Linked DNA regions of Homo sapiens: all the other regions are linked to region 1. Evidence: fine-mapped expression QTL. A gene starts in region 1. Each other region holds a variant in brackets. All regions are shown on one strand. Distances are between the middles of the regions. Region 1 holds the start of ACO1 (aconitase 1). Region 2 overlaps RIGI (RNA sensor RIG-I). Region 3 overlaps ACO1 (aconitase 1). Region 4 overlaps ACO1 (aconitase 1).

What was found. PIP is the estimated chance that this variant, and not a neighbour inherited with it, causes the effect. A credible set is the group of variants that fine-mapping cannot tell apart.
Region 2: its variant is the best candidate, but not a certain one, in a credible set for the expression of ACO1 in subcutaneous fat (TwinsUK, PIP 0.78).
Region 3: its variant is the best candidate, but not a certain one, in a credible set for the expression of ACO1 in esophagus muscle (GTEx, PIP 0.88).
Region 4: its variant is the best candidate, but not a certain one, in a credible set for the expression of ACO1 in pancreas (GTEx, PIP 0.82).

The regions. Positions count from the first base shown.
Region 1 is chr9:32,382,329-32,386,495 of GRCh38, forward strand. It overlaps ACO1 (aconitase 1), which reads left to right and starts at 2,315. Exons shown (of 21, transcript NM_002197.3): 1 at 2,315-2,407. RefSeq lists a silencer at 2,116-2,495.
Region 2 is chr9:32,470,307-32,474,473 of GRCh38, forward strand. RIGI (RNA sensor RIG-I) reads right to left here. Exons shown (of 18, transcript NM_014314.4): 14 at 2,669-2,759. All of the region lies in intron 1 of LOC124902138 (a long non-coding RNA gene), which reads left to right. Among named protein-coding and RNA genes, the nearest start is that of RIGI, 54 kb to the right of the region's middle. The variant C/A (reference allele first, on the strand shown) is at 2,060.
Region 3 is chr9:32,422,976-32,427,142 of GRCh38, forward strand. ACO1 (aconitase 1) reads left to right here. Exons shown (of 21, transcript NM_002197.3): 9 at 344-444; 10 at 1,574-1,690; 11 at 2,863-3,022. Among named protein-coding and RNA genes, the nearest start is that of ACO1, 40 kb to the left of the region's middle. The variant G/A (reference allele first, on the strand shown) is at 2,297.
Region 4 is chr9:32,413,941-32,418,107 of GRCh38, forward strand. All of the region lies in intron 4 of ACO1 (aconitase 1), which reads left to right. Among named protein-coding and RNA genes, the nearest start is that of ACO1, 31 kb to the left of the region's middle. The variant C/T (reference allele first, on the strand shown) is at 2,543.

The sequences.
Region 1 (4,167 bases):
CGTATAGCAGGTGTGGTGGGAAGAGGGCATCAGGGGAGAGCCGTTGGATATTTACCGGGAGCCAAGATGAGGCTAAGACCTGCCTCTCCTTGTTATGAATTTAACTCTTTTTTTCTTAAAGAGGAACAAAACGTTTATTTCAAATTTTCTCTGGTATGAAGACATATATTCAGTGAAAAATTTAGGGATTCTAAGGTCCCCTCAAAGCATTCAGGAGGACCACTGTGCATTCAGAGGACACTCTCTTGCCTGCTGCCAGGTAAGACATACCTGCTTCCCCTTCTGCCATAATTGTAAGCTTCCTGAAGCCTCCCCAGCATGCAGAACTGTGAGCCAATTAAACCTCCTTCCCTATGAATTACCCAGTCTCAGGGTTCTTTACAGCAGCGTGAGAACGGTCTAATACAGACACCTTTGGAATATCCAGGTGGGGTTGCCACATATGGCTGCAAATCAAGAGTGTGAAGGTCAGAAAGTTAACTAAGACCAATGACAGAGACATAGCAGGCTTCAGCTAGAAGTGGCAGGCAGTCTGCATACTGAGAAAATAGATGAAGAAAAACTCAGCAAATGGAGAAACATATAAAGCAAGAGGAGAGAGTGTAGGGAAAGACCTTAAAAAAGAGGGACAAAAGAGGGAAGAGGTGACTCCTAAGAGCGGAGGGCTGAAAAGCCAAAAGGAGGTTAACATTTCTAGGAAAACGAATCGCCAGTGTCAAATACCACAGAGTAGTGAGTAAGGACAGGAACAGAGGACAGGCCCTGGGATTCACGATCTGCACGTCACTGGTGACAACGTCCAAGAGCAACAGACTGGGGGGATGTGGAACTATTTCCTTCACGGTTTTGACCAGCGTGCTTACTAATAAATCTCAATTCCCTTCATAGCTCTGATTTGATTGTTTTCTGCGAAGGATTCTCAGTTACACGGATGTTATCATTGAACATTAGATACTTTGCTTTCCGAATGGCTGCCTCATTAAGAATCGCAATTTAGCTGGATGTGTCCTCATCGGACTTCCCCAGCCTTCTACTCACTCTCACCTTGCCCCTACTCTCCCTACCTCCCAAGGGGACTGGAGCATGATTTTTCAGGGATTGTGGTGCACCTCTGCCATATGGTGGACATTCAAAGAAAATTTAATTACTAATGTGAATGGAAAGGATTTAGGAAGTGGGTGGGAAAACAGTCTCCTCTCATATTGGAAATACAGTTACTTCCCCTTTCAAAATAAATATAAGTATTTATATTTCAAAGTTAAATATAACTAGACGATAGTTGTACCCTATAGTGCAGTATGACAGGGAAGGTGTAGGCTTTGGTGTCAAACCAACCTAAGGACTGAGTCTCAGCTGTTGCGCATTGCACACCTGCAAAGACGGGTAATATTCTTTACTTGTAAGGTGGTTGGAAGAGCTGAACTGAATAACGTGGAAAGAGTCGATCACAGGGCTTTGTGCAGAATAGGAGGGCAGTATAAAGTAGCAGGGGGGCTATTAGTACTGGCTATTGTTTACTCATCCTATAAGCTGCTTATTCAGAAAACTACAGTAACTTTCCAAATAATTTGGGCAGGAAAACCTCACCACCTTTCATCTAGAAAGATCTAATCACTTCTTTGAACGCCATTCACCCAAGAGGGCACAACTCCTACCAACATGAAAAGCAGATCTTGTGAAAGCCCACTTGCTGCCATCTCCCAGCCATTTCTCCGACTTCAGACCGGTGAACATCGTGCATTAGAAAGTGTTGTTACATGTCCAAGGAAATCTACATATAGAACTTTTGCCACGGAAATGCTGAAGTCCTATTCTGACAGCGTGACTCCGATGTCCACTTGGCAGGCTTTGCGCAAAGAATTAAGGCGAGGGTGGAGAGGGTGGGTAGGGTGGGGACGGACAAAGTGAGAAGGGAGGCGGGCCAAGTGACCACACGTACATGAAGCCTCTCCAGTTATGGCCAAATCATTTTTTAAAAATAATTCCATTTCTTCCCCACCCTTTGGTCACTTCCTAACGCCGGCTGGGGAGTCACATGCTAAGCTCCAAAGTGAGCAACAGACACCCTCGTCCCAGGTCCCATGCTGGCAGAAGCGGACCCGGGCCGAGGGATCAGCCCTCCCACTTCCAGCGGAGGAGCCCTTCGCAACCCTAGCCTCCAGCCCGGGGCGAAGTCCTCCAGGCCCGCGGGGGCGCCCGCAGGCTCCGCCCCTTCTTCGGCTAGCTGCCCGTCCGTCCCGCCCCTGCTCCGCCCTTCCCGCCCCTGCTCCGCCCATCGCGCGGCGGCCCCGGGGGCGAGAGGGGGCGGAGCGTGGAGGCGGCAGCTGGAACCGCGCAGCGCACGGGAACGCGTCCCGCTGCTTGGGTCAGGTTCGCCGGTCGCGGGAGCCCCGCCGTGCAGTCGGAGGTGAGTACCGACGCGGCCCGACCCACGTCCCCAGGCGGGAGCGCCGTCCACCCTGTATCCCTCGAGAGTCGGTGCGGGCCTTTACCGAGGTGCCCGAGGCAGTGGCGGCACGGGGGACACGGAGGCGAGCTTGGGGAGGCTGAGAGGAGAATCGGGGACGTGTTTCTGGCGACTGACGTCTCCACCCTGTCCCCAGTCTATGTCATGCCGGGGAGAGAAACCAGGGATTGGAAGTGGCTTTCCTAGACCCTTCTTAGCCTTGGCTGTGCGTGCTGTCCTGAAAGTCCTTGCCTAGGGTGTGCGGCCAGTCCTGGGAGTCCTAACCCCGAGGGTGTGAGGCCCGCACTGGGAGTCCTCGCCCAGGCCCGGCTGGCTGGATAGGGAAACCCTTGCTAAAGTTGTGCGGGCAGATCCGGGAATCCACTCCAAGGGGTAAAGGGAAAATGGGATGAGGGGGAAGAGACCCTTCGTGGGAGGCTTGAACACAGAGCCCACCATGATAGATTCAGAGATCTAGAAAGGAGCTTGGGCTGCAGTTATGACCAAGTCATTTTTTTCTAGATTCAGCTAGCACATCATAATGGCATCTTCCTTCTTGCAACACATGTAACTCTCTTCCCTGGGGGACAACCTCTAGGACAGAAGTCCCCAAACTTTTCTGGTACTCAGTACTCCTTTACACTCTTAAAAATTAGTATCTTAAGGAGCTTTTATGTGTGTTATATCTATCCATATTTATAATATGTAAGTAAGACTGAGAAATTTGTACTATAATAATTCATTTAAAAAGAATAGTGAACTAATTATATCTTAACATTGCCTATTTTTATGAAAAAGAACTATATTTCCCAAAACAGAAAATGATTGAGAAGAGTGGCATTGTTTTACATTTTTGCAAATCTCTTTGATGTCAAGCGTAATTGAAGACAGCTGGATTCTGATAGCTGCTTCTGCAGTCTGTTGCAATATCACATATCATGTAGCCTCTTGAGACCTCCACTGTATACTCCTGAAAATGTGTGAATGAAAAAAAGCAAGTAACATTTTATTACTAGGAAAATGGTTTTGACTTTGGAGATCCCTAGGAGTTCTCTGCACCACACTTTGAGGATGCTGGTGTAGGAAATGCTTCAGAGGCTTCATTCATTGGGCCTGCTTCTTGTTTGTGATCCTTCCTCTGATTGGGAACACACACCACCTCATGCCATGGACAGTATTAACCTCTGGTATCTGGAACCAAGTTTGATCTCACTTTGGAAACCATGTACTAGGTCCCCACGTGAGGCTGTGATGAACCTTGCCAGCCTCCTGAAAAGTCAGCAAGGCTTCGCACATGCCTTTGGTTGTCTCTGTGCTTGCAGAGCTGACCTGTCTGTGCATCAGGATTACAACAGTGATGTGGCAAACAGGACCTGTAGGCTCACAAAAGTGCCAGTGGGGAGACCATGCCAAGTGTGTAGGGGTTCCTGTGAGAGTTACCAAGTAGTCAGGAAGTTATTTCCAAAAGAACAAGGAGGCATGCTTTTGCCTTCCCTTGCACGTGTTCATTTCTGTTTGCAGTTGCATGGTTATTAGCCTTGAGTTTATTGGAATAATGATTTCCAGTCTTGACGTTCTTTCACTTTCCACTTTCAGAGGGTGTCACTCTGAGTGGTGCTTCCTCAGCCCCTGTCAAAAAGCAGTTTCCACCATCCTGGAGTGTGGTAGGTGAGGTCCTTCACGGGACTCTTTCCTTAGCTTCGTGCCTTGTCAGAACAAGT
Region 2 (4,167 bases), 88 kb after region 1:
TTTTCCATAAGGGCTAGATGTATAGTAAATACTTTAGGCTCTGTGGGTCATGCTGTCTCAGCTACCCAACACTGCCATTATAGTTGGAAAGCAGCCACAGACAATACATACATGAATGGTCATGACTGTGTTCCCCCAAAAAGTTATTTTATAGACAATGAAATTTGAATTGCACAAACCTTTCACATGTCATAAAATATTCTTTTGATTTTTTTTCAAACAAAAATCATTCTCAGCTCAAGAGTCATTCATAAGCAGGCAGTGAGCCAGATTTTGCTACTGACATTAACCCTCTCAGCTAGGTACTATTATTATTTTTCCATTTGACAGATGAAGAAAGTAAGTCATGAAGAGGTTAGGTAACCTGCTTCTTCATGAAACAGGAAATTAAGAAATGGAAATGTGGAAATATACAAATTTAGCAAACTGAACTTTTGCTTGTTTACATGCAGCTTTTTGTAAAAAAAGGTGTTCACAATTCTTCTAGCTTAACTGTGCAAGGAAGAGGATCAGACCAGAAACAAATTCAGCTAAAATTGTCTTAATTTACTGGTAAATCAAGTTTAACCCATTCGATAAAAGCTATAGAGTTCACACTGATAAACTGAGTGAAGAAAATACTTCAGTGGTCTCTACCTCAGGGTTAACAGAATTTATAGAAGCTCCAATTGGCTAGGCATGGTGTTTCACACCTGTAATCCCAGCATTTTGGGAGGTCAAGGTGGCAGATTACTTGAGGCCAGGAGTTCAAGACCAGCCTGGCCAACATGGCAAAATCCTGTCCCTACTAAAAATACAAAAATTAGCTGGGCATGGTGGTGTGCACCTGTAATCCCAGCTACTTGGGAGGCTGAGGCATGAGAATCACTTGAAACTGGAAGGTTGCAGTGAGCTGAGTTCGTGCCACTGCACTCTAGCCTGGAAAACAGAGCAAGACTCTGTCTCAAAAATAAAATAAAATAAATAAAAGTTCCAATTTTTTCCTAATATATTTCCAGCCCAAATCTTGAGATATATTTTGCTAAGGCCAAAACAATTTCTTTTCACCATCATCATCTACTAAACAATGAGCATCTCTGGAACAGACATCATACGTGATTAATTTCTTAGTTTATTCATCTATTCAGTCAAACATTTATTCAGCAATTATGGCTTGTCAGATAAAAATAATGATTAAAAGGTCCATTTTTATCCACAAGGAGCTCACATTTTGTAGAAGAAAAATATAAATAAGAAGCTATAATTGAGTATGATGAGCACAGAAAGGATGCTATGCGAATGTGGAAGAAGGAGCTCTCTACCAGTTTTTGGAGGTTGGGGAAGGCTACATGGCAGAAGCACAATGCCTGGCACAGCACAAGTTATAAATAAATGTTGTTGAATGAACGGATGAATAAATGAACAAACCAATAAGAAAATATTTCCTGAGTGTCTACTTGTGGAGGAACAACAAAGTTTGAAAATCAAGGAGGACTCATGTTGGAGTCAGATCGCAGAGAACTTTGAATCCCAACCACAAAAATATGGTGTTAGACTTCATTTGGTGAGCCACTTTTTAAGATCTGAATCTACTTTTCATATTTATGAAGTTTAAAAATGACATGAAGGGAAAGTGCGAGGGTGATAACTAGGGACTGACAGGGTGGGTATGGGAGGGTGCTTATTATAAACAACACTAAATAGGAAGACTTGTCAGTGCCAGTCACTGAGGGGTGGGGGGCACAGCTGTGAGGTGGTCAGGATGAGGGCGGGCCACCTAGGATCCTCCCAGATAATAACACAGGCAGCCTTTTATCCTTTGACCACTCTAGCTGGATTTCAGAATTGTCTGCTTGGACTTTTTAAAATTGTAAAATACATAATATACACAAAAGCTATGCATATCTACTGCTTAAAGAATAACAATAAAACAGAAATAGAACATTTCTATTTCTAGACAATCTTAATCTATTGGTTGAAAATTTGAGCAGGATGATAATGCGTGCAAGCATGACTTAAAAAACAACCCTGGCTTTGTCTGCAGGACATATGAGAGGAGGCAATGTCTACAAGGAAAGAG[C/A]CTGGAGTGGTTTTTGGCATTTGAGCATTGTGATGGCTTTTTGATGCATTAACTTGGCTAGGCCAAACAACAGTTCCCAGTAATTCATCTAGGTACTGCTCTGAAGAGATTTTACCGATGGGATTCAAGTCCCTAATCAGTTGACTTTAAGTCAGATCAAAAGAGAGTTCACTCCAGGTGGGCCTGGCCTAATCAGGTGAGCCTTTTAAAAGACGGCTTAGGCCTTCTCCAAAGTCAGAGACTCCAAACAGCTCATGTCTGGGGGGTTCCAGTCTGTTCCTGATAGTCTCTTCCTGACTACCTGCCCTACACGCTTCAGACTTGCTTTGCCAGCCCAATTGTGTAAAATTCCTTGCAAGAAATCTCTGTATATATGCATATGTGGACACATATACAACACACACCTCTCATATATATGTATAATCACCTACTGCTTTTGCTTCTGTGGTTAAACCTTGACTGATAGAAGCATTAAAACAGAACTTGAAATATATATTAAAACAGAATTTGAAATATATATTATATATATACACACACACATATACATACACACACACACATATTCTTAAATGCATAATCCACTAAATCTAATTCACTATATATAAATACCTGTGTTCTGATTTGTTTTGCCACGTCCAGTCAATATGCCAGGTTTTAGAAAACTGAGTTTAGGATTTCCTTCAATCCAATTTTTTAAAGCCTGAAAATGAAAAGCAATTATCAATTGGACACTCCTTATAAATCATTTGTATTAATTCAATATTGAAATACATGCAAAAAGAAAAAAATTTAAAGTTAGTACACGTACAGTTTTCAGACTGACAAACCTGAGAAAAAAAGCATTTTGGAATTGAACTCTATGTAATAATTAACTAAAATGGCATAGATCTCTGTAACCTGATATGGTTTAATCTCTAAGACTTTTTTTTTTTTTTTTTTTGAGATGGAGTCTTGGTCTACCGCCTAGGCTGGAGTGCAGTGGCACGATCTTCGCTCACTGCAACCTCCGCCTCCCAGGTTCAAGCAATTCTTTGCCTCAGCCTCCCGAGTAGCTGGGATTACAGGCATCAGCAACCATGCATGGCTAATTTTTGTATTTTTAGTAGAGACAGGATTTCATCATGTTGGCCAGGCTGGTCTTGAATTCCTGACCTCGTGATCCACCCACCTCATCCTCCCAAAGTGCTGGGATTACAGGCATGAGCCACCGCACCTGGCCATCTCTAAGACATTTTTAAAAGAAAAAACAAAAGTTCAAAAATAGTGGGTATGTAGAATAAGTGAGTTTAGCATGATCACAGGACAGGAGATCAATATACATAATTCAACTGAATTTCTACATACTAGCAACAAACTATTGGAATTTCAAAAGTTTTTAAGTACTGGACACAGTGGCTCACACTTATAATCCCAGCATTTTGGGAGGCCGAGGCAGGAGAGTCACTTGAGCCCAGGAGTTCAAGACCAACCTCGGCAACATGGCAAAAGCCTGTCTCTACTAAAAATACAAAAATTAGCTGGGCATGGTGGCACACACCTGTAGTCTCAGCTACTCAGGAAGCTGAGGCAAGAGAATCGCTTGAACCGGGGAGGCATAGGTTGCAGTGAGCCGAGGTTGTGCCACTGCACTCCGGCCTGGGTGACAGACCGAGACTCCGTCTCAAAATTAAATAAATAAAAATAAAAATTAGCTGGGTGTGGTGGTTTACACCTGCAGTCCCAGCTACTGGGGAGGCTGAGATGGGAGAATCACCTGAGCTAGGGAAGTTGAGGCTGCAGTGAGCTGTGATCACACTAGTGTACTCCAACCTGGGCAATGAGAGTGAGACCCTGTCTCAAAAAAAAAAAAAAAAAAAAAAGGTTTTAAAGTACCATTTATAATAGCATCAAAAAATTAATACCTAGGTATAAGTCTAACAAAATATGTGCAGAATCTGCTGAAAATGACAAAACACTGATAAAAGAAACCAAAGAACATCTGGTTAGTCTACCTCTAAGGTAGCCCTCAATGATCTCCACCTTCTGTATTCAGATCCTCATGTAATCCCCTCCCCTGAGTGTGAAGGGGACTTACTGACTTGCTTCTAATGAATAAAATACAACAGATG
Region 3 (4,167 bases), 41 kb after region 1:
GCATAGGTGTGCTTTCACAATTAGCTCAGGTGTAAGATTCTCCTAATTAAAGGCTATACCCCAAAAGAGGCGGGTTATCTATAGATAGAACCAGAATCTTTTTCAGAAAACAGTCACTTTGATAGGAACAGCACATTCATTAATGGCCCCTAATAAAAAGCAGCATCAGTGGGAGAGTCAAACCATTAGCCTGGAAGCCTAAAAATTGACAGAGCTGTTGGTGTGTGTGTAAGTGCAGCGTATGTTGCGTACTTACATAATTGCTAATGGAAGTATCAGTTTATAAACTTCAACCAGGAAATACTAACCTATGTTACTTGTTACTCCTTAAAATGCCTTTTAGGTCGTGATGAAGAAAAATTAAAGTATATTAAAAAATATCTTCAGGCTGTAGGAATGTTTCGAGATTTCAATGACCCTTCTCAAGACCCAGACTTCACCCAGGTATGAGAGTGCCTTCCACTGTGCATGTATTTCCTCTTCCTCAAGGCTGCGATTTTAGTGGTGGTTTTTCTTGGGGGAATGCGCTAGTAGGAAATTAGTCACTGCCAAGGCATTACAAGAGAACGGAGTTTTAGAAGGTTGAAAAACCAAAAGGATAAGGCAATTGTAAACATAACAGAATAATATAACTTCTTACATTCCTACTGGCTTAATAATTGTAGGTTAAGTGTGCTTCCCTATTTGAACTACTGATTCACACCTCTTAATGTGGAAGACCACTGAAAGACTTTGCTAAAGGAATAAGAATGATACAATGGACTTTGGGGACTCAGGGCAAAGGGTGGGAGGGAGGTGAAGGATAAAAGATTACAAATTTGGGTACAGTGTACACTGCTCAGGTGATGGATGCACCAAAACCTCAGAAATCACCGCTAAAGAACTTATTCATGTAACCAAACACCACCTGTTCCCCAAAAATCTATTGAAATATAAAGAAAAATAAAGAGACTTCACTAGTGGAACAAGAGCTGTTTAAAGGCTAAACCATCATTATTACAGACCTAGAAAGAAGTGAAGGTACAAACATGTCAGTAAACTGAATCCACGTTTTTCTAGACAACAAGGTAAACTAGCCCTGCGACCCATGTTTGGTTTCTTAATACATTGAGGAGGGGAAATGTTCAGTTAGACTAAGGCCCGTTTCCTGGTGTTGATAACTTAACGGCTGCATCCCTCCGAAATCACCTTAGAAGTGTAATGGTTTATGTATGATTTCAATAGAAAACCCACCTTCGGCCTAACTTAGCCATATAAAACGCGATGAGCTGCCTCCAAGGATGGGCGAGTGGAGGACACTGAGCATCTGCAGCACCCACCCTGTTCTTTCTGAGAGGTGGCAAGGCTGCCTGCCTGTCTCCTGCTACTTAAGTGCCCATGATGATCTTGGGAAATTAATCACTTAAGATTAATTAAGAGGATTAAGAGAAACACTGGCTTCCTTGTTTTGGAATGTGGTAGTTTATTTGCTTATTTTTATGGTTGTCATGTTTTAAATTCTCTGACATGCTTTGGGTTTCCTCTTTGTGGGTATAATGTAAATTCTATAATTTCTTTTCTTTGGGGTCAACAGGTTGTGGAATTAGATTTGAAAACAGTAGTGCCTTGCTGTAGTGGACCCAAAAGGCCTCAGGACAAAGTTGCTGTGTCCGACATGAAAAAGGACTTTGAGAGCTGCCTTGGAGCCAAGGTAGGGGCCTGCGGGAAGAGGTTGAATCCTCTCAACTCTACCTCTTGCCTGGTTACTCAGCGTCCAGGCTTTCATCCCACTTGACATGAATCTTCCTGTAGCCTGAAGCTTGAGGGTGTTTATTCTTCCTTCTGAAGTCCTTAATGACTTCCTCCATTAGTCACGAGCCAAGCGGCAAGAGCCATCATAGACACAACTCAACCCACCTTTTTAAGCATGTCTGCTTTTCACAGGACCCTCACCACACTGTTTACTCACCCGAGGTTTTCTAGCTGTTGCACCTTTGTGCATGCCCCTCCCTGCCTGAAAGTCTCTTCTCCAACTCATATTACTCTGTTCTGTGAACTCCATAAGACTTGGTTCAGATACCAGCTACTCTGCATTGGGTTCTCAGAATCTCATAGCAGAAAGTCCCCTTTCCCTTATTGGACACTTCATGGTGCTTGGGCTGAAATACTTCGATAGCATTCCATATTCTTTAACTTACATTGTTGGTACTTTATTTGCATGTATGATTTCTGTTGCTAGACTGTACGTGTGAGAATAGGATTTGTGTCTGAATCACCTTGGGAGCCCGCAAGGTACCTAGCACAGTATCTTACATGC[G/A]GTAGATTTTCAATGAACATTTCCCAAAAGAATGATTAAGATGTATGATGGATTTTATCTGTGAGACACCAGTATTATGCCAAATATTCAGCTGTACTTTGTTTGCGTTGTTGATCATGATTAATTGAGTCTGGTCAAAATAGCGCCTTTTTCTAAATTTCCATAAGGTTAGAATCCATAGTCTTAATCAGTCCATATCCATTAAACTGTACAATAATGTCATTGAGTTCAATTTAGACTAACTTTAAATTTGTAGTTTTAGCATTTACATTTTTGAGGTGGGAAGGAAGTAATTGTTACTAATTTCAGTGCAGAGTAAGACTCAGATATCATGACTGCTTTTTGTAAAGATTTCAAACGAGTAATTTTTCTGTAGCATTTCAGAGTTTACTTGCAGAGATACTTATGCTTTTGTTAAGAATTGGCCTTTAAAATTATAGTTACCAAAGTATTCCTTCTTCTCAAGTGAGAACTGTTGACTATATGTATGTATTTTCCTCTAGCCAGATACATGTATATCTTATATAAATATATTCCTATATAATATACATTTTTTCTTCCTTTAGCAAGGATTTAAAGGATTCCAAGTTGCTCCTGAACATCATAATGACCATAAGACCTTTATCTATGATAACACTGAATTCACCCTTGCTCATGGTTCTGTGGTCATTGCTGCCATTACTAGCTGCACAAACACCAGTAATCCGTCTGTGATGTTAGGGGCAGGTAAGTGCATTTGACTCCATCCTCATGGTCATACATGTGTGTAGGTGGAAATAGCCCGAGACAGGGCCCAGGGCCTTGGCGGAGTTGTACATGTAGTTCCCTGAACCTCGTCTTTTCCAGATACAGATATTTATTGGCCCATAAATATCTACACAATAAATAGTATCCAAAGCAAAGTTTTTAAAATCGAATGCACACTGCATAATAGTCTCTCTTGAGAATTAACACAGAAAATAAGTAGAGGAAAGCAAAGGAAGCTGGATTTCTGGGAAAGCCTACATTCTTGTGTCAGACTTTGGAAGAAAAATAAAGTGTTACCACAGACTTTGTTCTCCGTGAAACCCCTGAGCAGCAGGATTGAGTTCTGACGTGAATGCTGGGAGGTGTTTCTCAGTGAGGGCACAGGGCACTGGCTGATAAAACCTGGGGCCACTGGCCTGTTTCGCAATTCTGGTTGAGTTGTTAATATTTACATATGTGGTTTCCCTACTATAAGGTCTCTTTAGTTTCCAAGTTTTTAGTCATCCCCAAAGCTCCTCTTATATCCATCCACAGACCAGACAGTGTCAGCAGTTCCTTTCTATGAAGCAGACACGGGCATTAGGAAAGCCTTCTTTGCCTGAGTCCGTGTATTGCCACCTAAGCTTTCCTTGTCTGGTCTGGAGCAAACCAGTCTTCTGTAGACAAGTTACCAGCTTGTCTGTGGCTTTTTGTCCCCTCATGTCCCCACCCCCACTGCTCATGTTTTTGCTACTTCTGTGATACTTCCTAAGACAGAGCACCCAGTGTTCCAGTAGCAGTCTCTGTATCTGCCAAAGTCCAGCAGATCCTCCACTTCAAGATATATCTGAACACTCGATTTTTACTTCTTGGCTGACCGTTCCTTGCCAGCCAGCACACAGCTGATATAGTTTCAGAAAGGGCTCCTTCAATGATGATTTTCATCCAAATAAAACATAATTAGAAAGATGATTTTCCCTCTAAAAAAAAAATTAAAAACTCATTTTGTAATATATTCCTAAATGGTTTTACATTTATCTCTTTAAAAAAAAAGTAAGCAAATCTCTTTCTTCATTTCCTTGCCTAGCTTTGAGTTTACTGCATATATCTAAATGACCGTTGGCCAGGGAGCCTTTAGATTTCTG
Region 4 (4,167 bases), 32 kb after region 1:
AGATCAAGACCATCCTGGCTAACACGGTGAAACCCCATCTCTACTAAAAATACAAAAAATTAACTGGGTGTGGTGGCAGGCGCCTGTAGTCCCAGCTACTTGGGAGGCTGAGTGAGGCCCGGGAATGGCGTGAACCCAGGAGGCGGAGCTTGCAGTGAGCCGAGATTGCGCCACTGCACTCCAGCCTGGGCGACAGAGTGAGACTCCGTCTCAAAAAAAAAGAATTTCATAACATTTCTGACCAGATTTCATTAATGTGAAAACTATCTCCATGTTAATACTGTCCGTGAATTTCTGGAGCTCCATTAAATGTAATTCTCAGAAACTGAACTACATTCAATTCTGAATTCAAATGAACTAAGAAATTTCCTCTTTAGTCCGTGAGGCCATTCACATTTAGAGACCTTATTAAAAGCTCACTAGATTAGACTAATTTAGGGAAGTTCTGAGTGGTAGAAAATTCTGAATGCTAGGTCTATTCATTCCAGTAACTAGAACTAGGCTAATTGAGCCAAGCTCCATATAATAGATGTTTTGTTTTCCTGAGTAAATAGGGTTTTACCTGGAATTACTGTATCATGAAACAGTCTAAGCATTTCTGGCTTCTGCACGTCCTATGAACATGTCACTTCCATCAAACTGATACCCCCAGCATTTTCTGGGGTAAACATTCCTCCGTCAATCATCAGTCATGCTTCTGCTGTGAGAAGCTCTGCCATCCTCCTGGTGCTGGAGGGTGGAAGATCAGGGACAATGACTAGGAGTCCATAAGTGCTCACAGTATAGCAAAATAGATGGGGAGGAGAGGCAGGGGCCACATGTGGTTATAATCTTACCTGTAGTGGTAGAAATCAAGGTCAGAGATGCTTTCCTTTTTTAAAAAAATTAAATCCATTTAGCAGATCTATTATGTGCCAGTATTTATTCCAGAAACAGATTATAGTTTAGAAGGGGAGAGAAATTAGTGAACACACAGCTTTCATGCAGTTGATAAGTGTAGTCACCACAGAGAAGGGGCAAATCATCCTGACCTGGGGAGTCTGTGGGTTTTTCAAGGAGCGTCACCTGATCTGGATCCTGAGCCTGTTTACCAAGGAGAGAAGAGCTGAAAAAGACCTTCCACTCAGAGCAAATAGAGCATGCAAAGGCACGAGGAAAGTGGGGGTGGGAAGAGCATGCTGGCTACAGTGTAGCTGAAGCTGAGAGCTTGGACTGGAGGCTAGGAGAGGGCTTATAAAGGATGGCTGAGGTCAGGTTGAAGGACTTAGGTTTTTAAGACAAGGAATTTTTACTTTATAAGAAAATGGGAAGCCATTGGTAGATTCAGACTGGTGCATGATGATTTATATTTTAGAAATGATTGAGGTGACCATACCAAAGGTAGATTGAATGGCCTCACAGGGCAGCTGGTTGGGAGGCTATTTCTGGAATAAATATCTTGATAGCTATAGGTACTAAGTGGTGGGAAAAGAGCTCATTAGATATGGACAGACAGGGAAGAGGAACAGATTTAGGAAAGAAAGCCCAGCATCAGGGTTTGACCCATTGAGTTGATGGTGCCTGAAGTATTCTTGGTGCGCATGCCCGAAACACACTGGAAACATAGATCTGGACGTAGAGACAGGTGGGAACTGGAGTGATGGAGCCCTCAGCATACTATTAAGAAGGTCGAGATGAGTACCTTGAGGAGCAGCTGTGTCTCGTCCAGAGGGTCCACAGAGTCTGCTGATGCCGGTGTCGGTGCAGGTGTCCTGCCTTGTTCTGCTATCCCGGGGTCCCTCCTTTCTCTCCCTCTTTTGCTCTTCTCGAACATGTACACACACAAATAGACACTCATTCACTCAGGCAGGGATCAGCAGACTTTTTCTAGAAAGGGCCAATAGCAAATACTTTAGGCTTTGCTGGCCACATGCTGTCTCTGTCACATATTCTTCCCCCCAACACCCCAGCCTTTAAAAATGTAAAAATCATCCTTCATTTGAGGGCCAAGCATATATGGGCATTGGGTCACATTTGGCCCATGGGCTGGGTTGTAGACCCCAGCCCATGTTAGGCAGTCTCAGGAATTGATCCTACCTATTAAAGCAACCAACACTTGTCTTGGAGAATATTCATATCAAGAGAAAAAAAATCTGTGTGGTAACCAAATATGTTTTCTTTTTTTTTTTTTTTGAGATGGCGTCTTGCTTTGTCGCCCAAGTTGGAGTGCAGTGGCGCGATCTTGGCTCACTGCAACCTCCACCTCCCAGGTTCAAGTGATTCTCCTGCCTCAGCCTCTCGAGTAGCTGGGATTACAGGCGCCTGCCACCATGCCCGGCTAATTTTTATATTTTTAGCAGAGATGGGGTTTCACCATGTTGGCCAGTCTGGTCTTGAACTCCTGACCTCGTGATCTGCCCGCCTCAGCCTCCCAAAGTGCTGGGATTACAGGTGCGAGCTACTGTGCCCGGCTCCAGATGTGTTTTCTATGAGGTAAATAACACATGCTTCCGGTCCCTTTTTTCCCAAGGAGTGTCTGCCCATCTTGCTCGGGCTGACTCAC[C/T]GTCATCCTTCAGACCACATTGATACCATGTCCTTCTGGAAAGCATTCCAATCCCCCCAACCCCCACCCCCAGGTGGGTTCATGGCCCATTCCAAGTGCTCCCGTACCAGGCAGTGATGATTGCATTCTTTTGCCATTGCCCTTTCACCAGACTCAGAGTGCCAGTGGGCAGTGAGCACACAGCTTTTGCACCATTGCATTTTCAGCATGTAGCATGTGGCAGGCTCTGGGGGAGGGGAGGATCAGAGTGAGTGAGAAGCAGAGTATCATGGTCAAGGTAGAAACCCCCAGGGCCAGTCAGACCTAGGCTCAGATAACAGCACTGTGTTATCGTCTAACTTTGGACAAATTTAACCTTTCTGTGCCTCAGCTGCTGCTTCTGGATATTGAGGATGACAGTAGTATTTACATGAGGGGTTGTGATGATAAGTTCACATGTGTAAAGCTCTGAGCGCCCACAACGTAATGTTGTCCTTTAGCTCTTGCTGTTACTGTGGTGGTGTTAACTACCACTGCCACCATTACTGCCACAGTCGCTGTTAACTATGACGGGAAGTCCATGTGGTATAGGGATTAAAGGATAGTGTCAACTCGGGAGTCAGACTGCCTGGGTTTCAATCCCAGTTCCACCACTGACTAGTGTCTGTGGTCCTGAGCAAGTTTCTTAACCTCTCTGTGTCTCAGTTTCCCCACTTGAAAAATGTGGCTATTAGTTGCACCTAACTCAAAGGGATATTATGGAGACTAGATGAGAAAATTAACACAAAGCATTTAGAATAGTTGCTGGTTCCTAGTAGTGTCAAAAAGTGTTAACTACTGGGTACTAGGAAGTAGTTATCCAGTACTTCATTTATTAATGAAGTCTGACTTTGGTCTTAGCTATTAATTTTACTAGCCTTTCCTGTGTTCACTCAATCCTATGATACATGCTTTATGAGCACATTCTGTGTGCTGAATCTGCGATCTTGTGACTATGACTTATTCTACCTTGACTCAAAACAATGCAGTTTGATTTTTAAAATCCTAGAAAATCTTGGTGCCCTGTGTTGTCCTGATGGACTGAATGACGTTGAGTAAATCTTAGCGTATAATCTGTGGTTCACAGATGTTATCAAGTGACACCATCTTCCTCATAAACCTTGGTCCTACACACAGGAGATTGTGATTCTATAAGGTACTGATCCTCTAAGCATTGCTAGTTTTCTGTCTCCCAACATAAAGAGATGAAAATACCAGCCCAGACACATTCCAGGTCAGAGAGATGTTATAATGAGGTCATGGATGAGGAGTATAGAAACAAGAGTTCTTTAAATGTCCAGGCTGCTGTTGTCATATGAATGTCTTGAGTCTGTTCCTAAGAGTCAGACTTTATGATTAGATTAGTTTTAACTTCAATTCAGTTCATGTTTTCTGCCTACCATAGTTAAAGGCATTGTAGGAATCACTTGAACCAAACAATAATTACTCTCTTTACTTTCACTAGTTACCTCTCCTATTCTGCATTGTAAATAGTCATGAATGAAATTCATATTATCACTCAGCAAGCAAGGAGATGCAATTCCATTTTGTTTCTTCATCACCAATAAATTTGACCACTAATATGTTAAGTCTCAAATTGTATACAT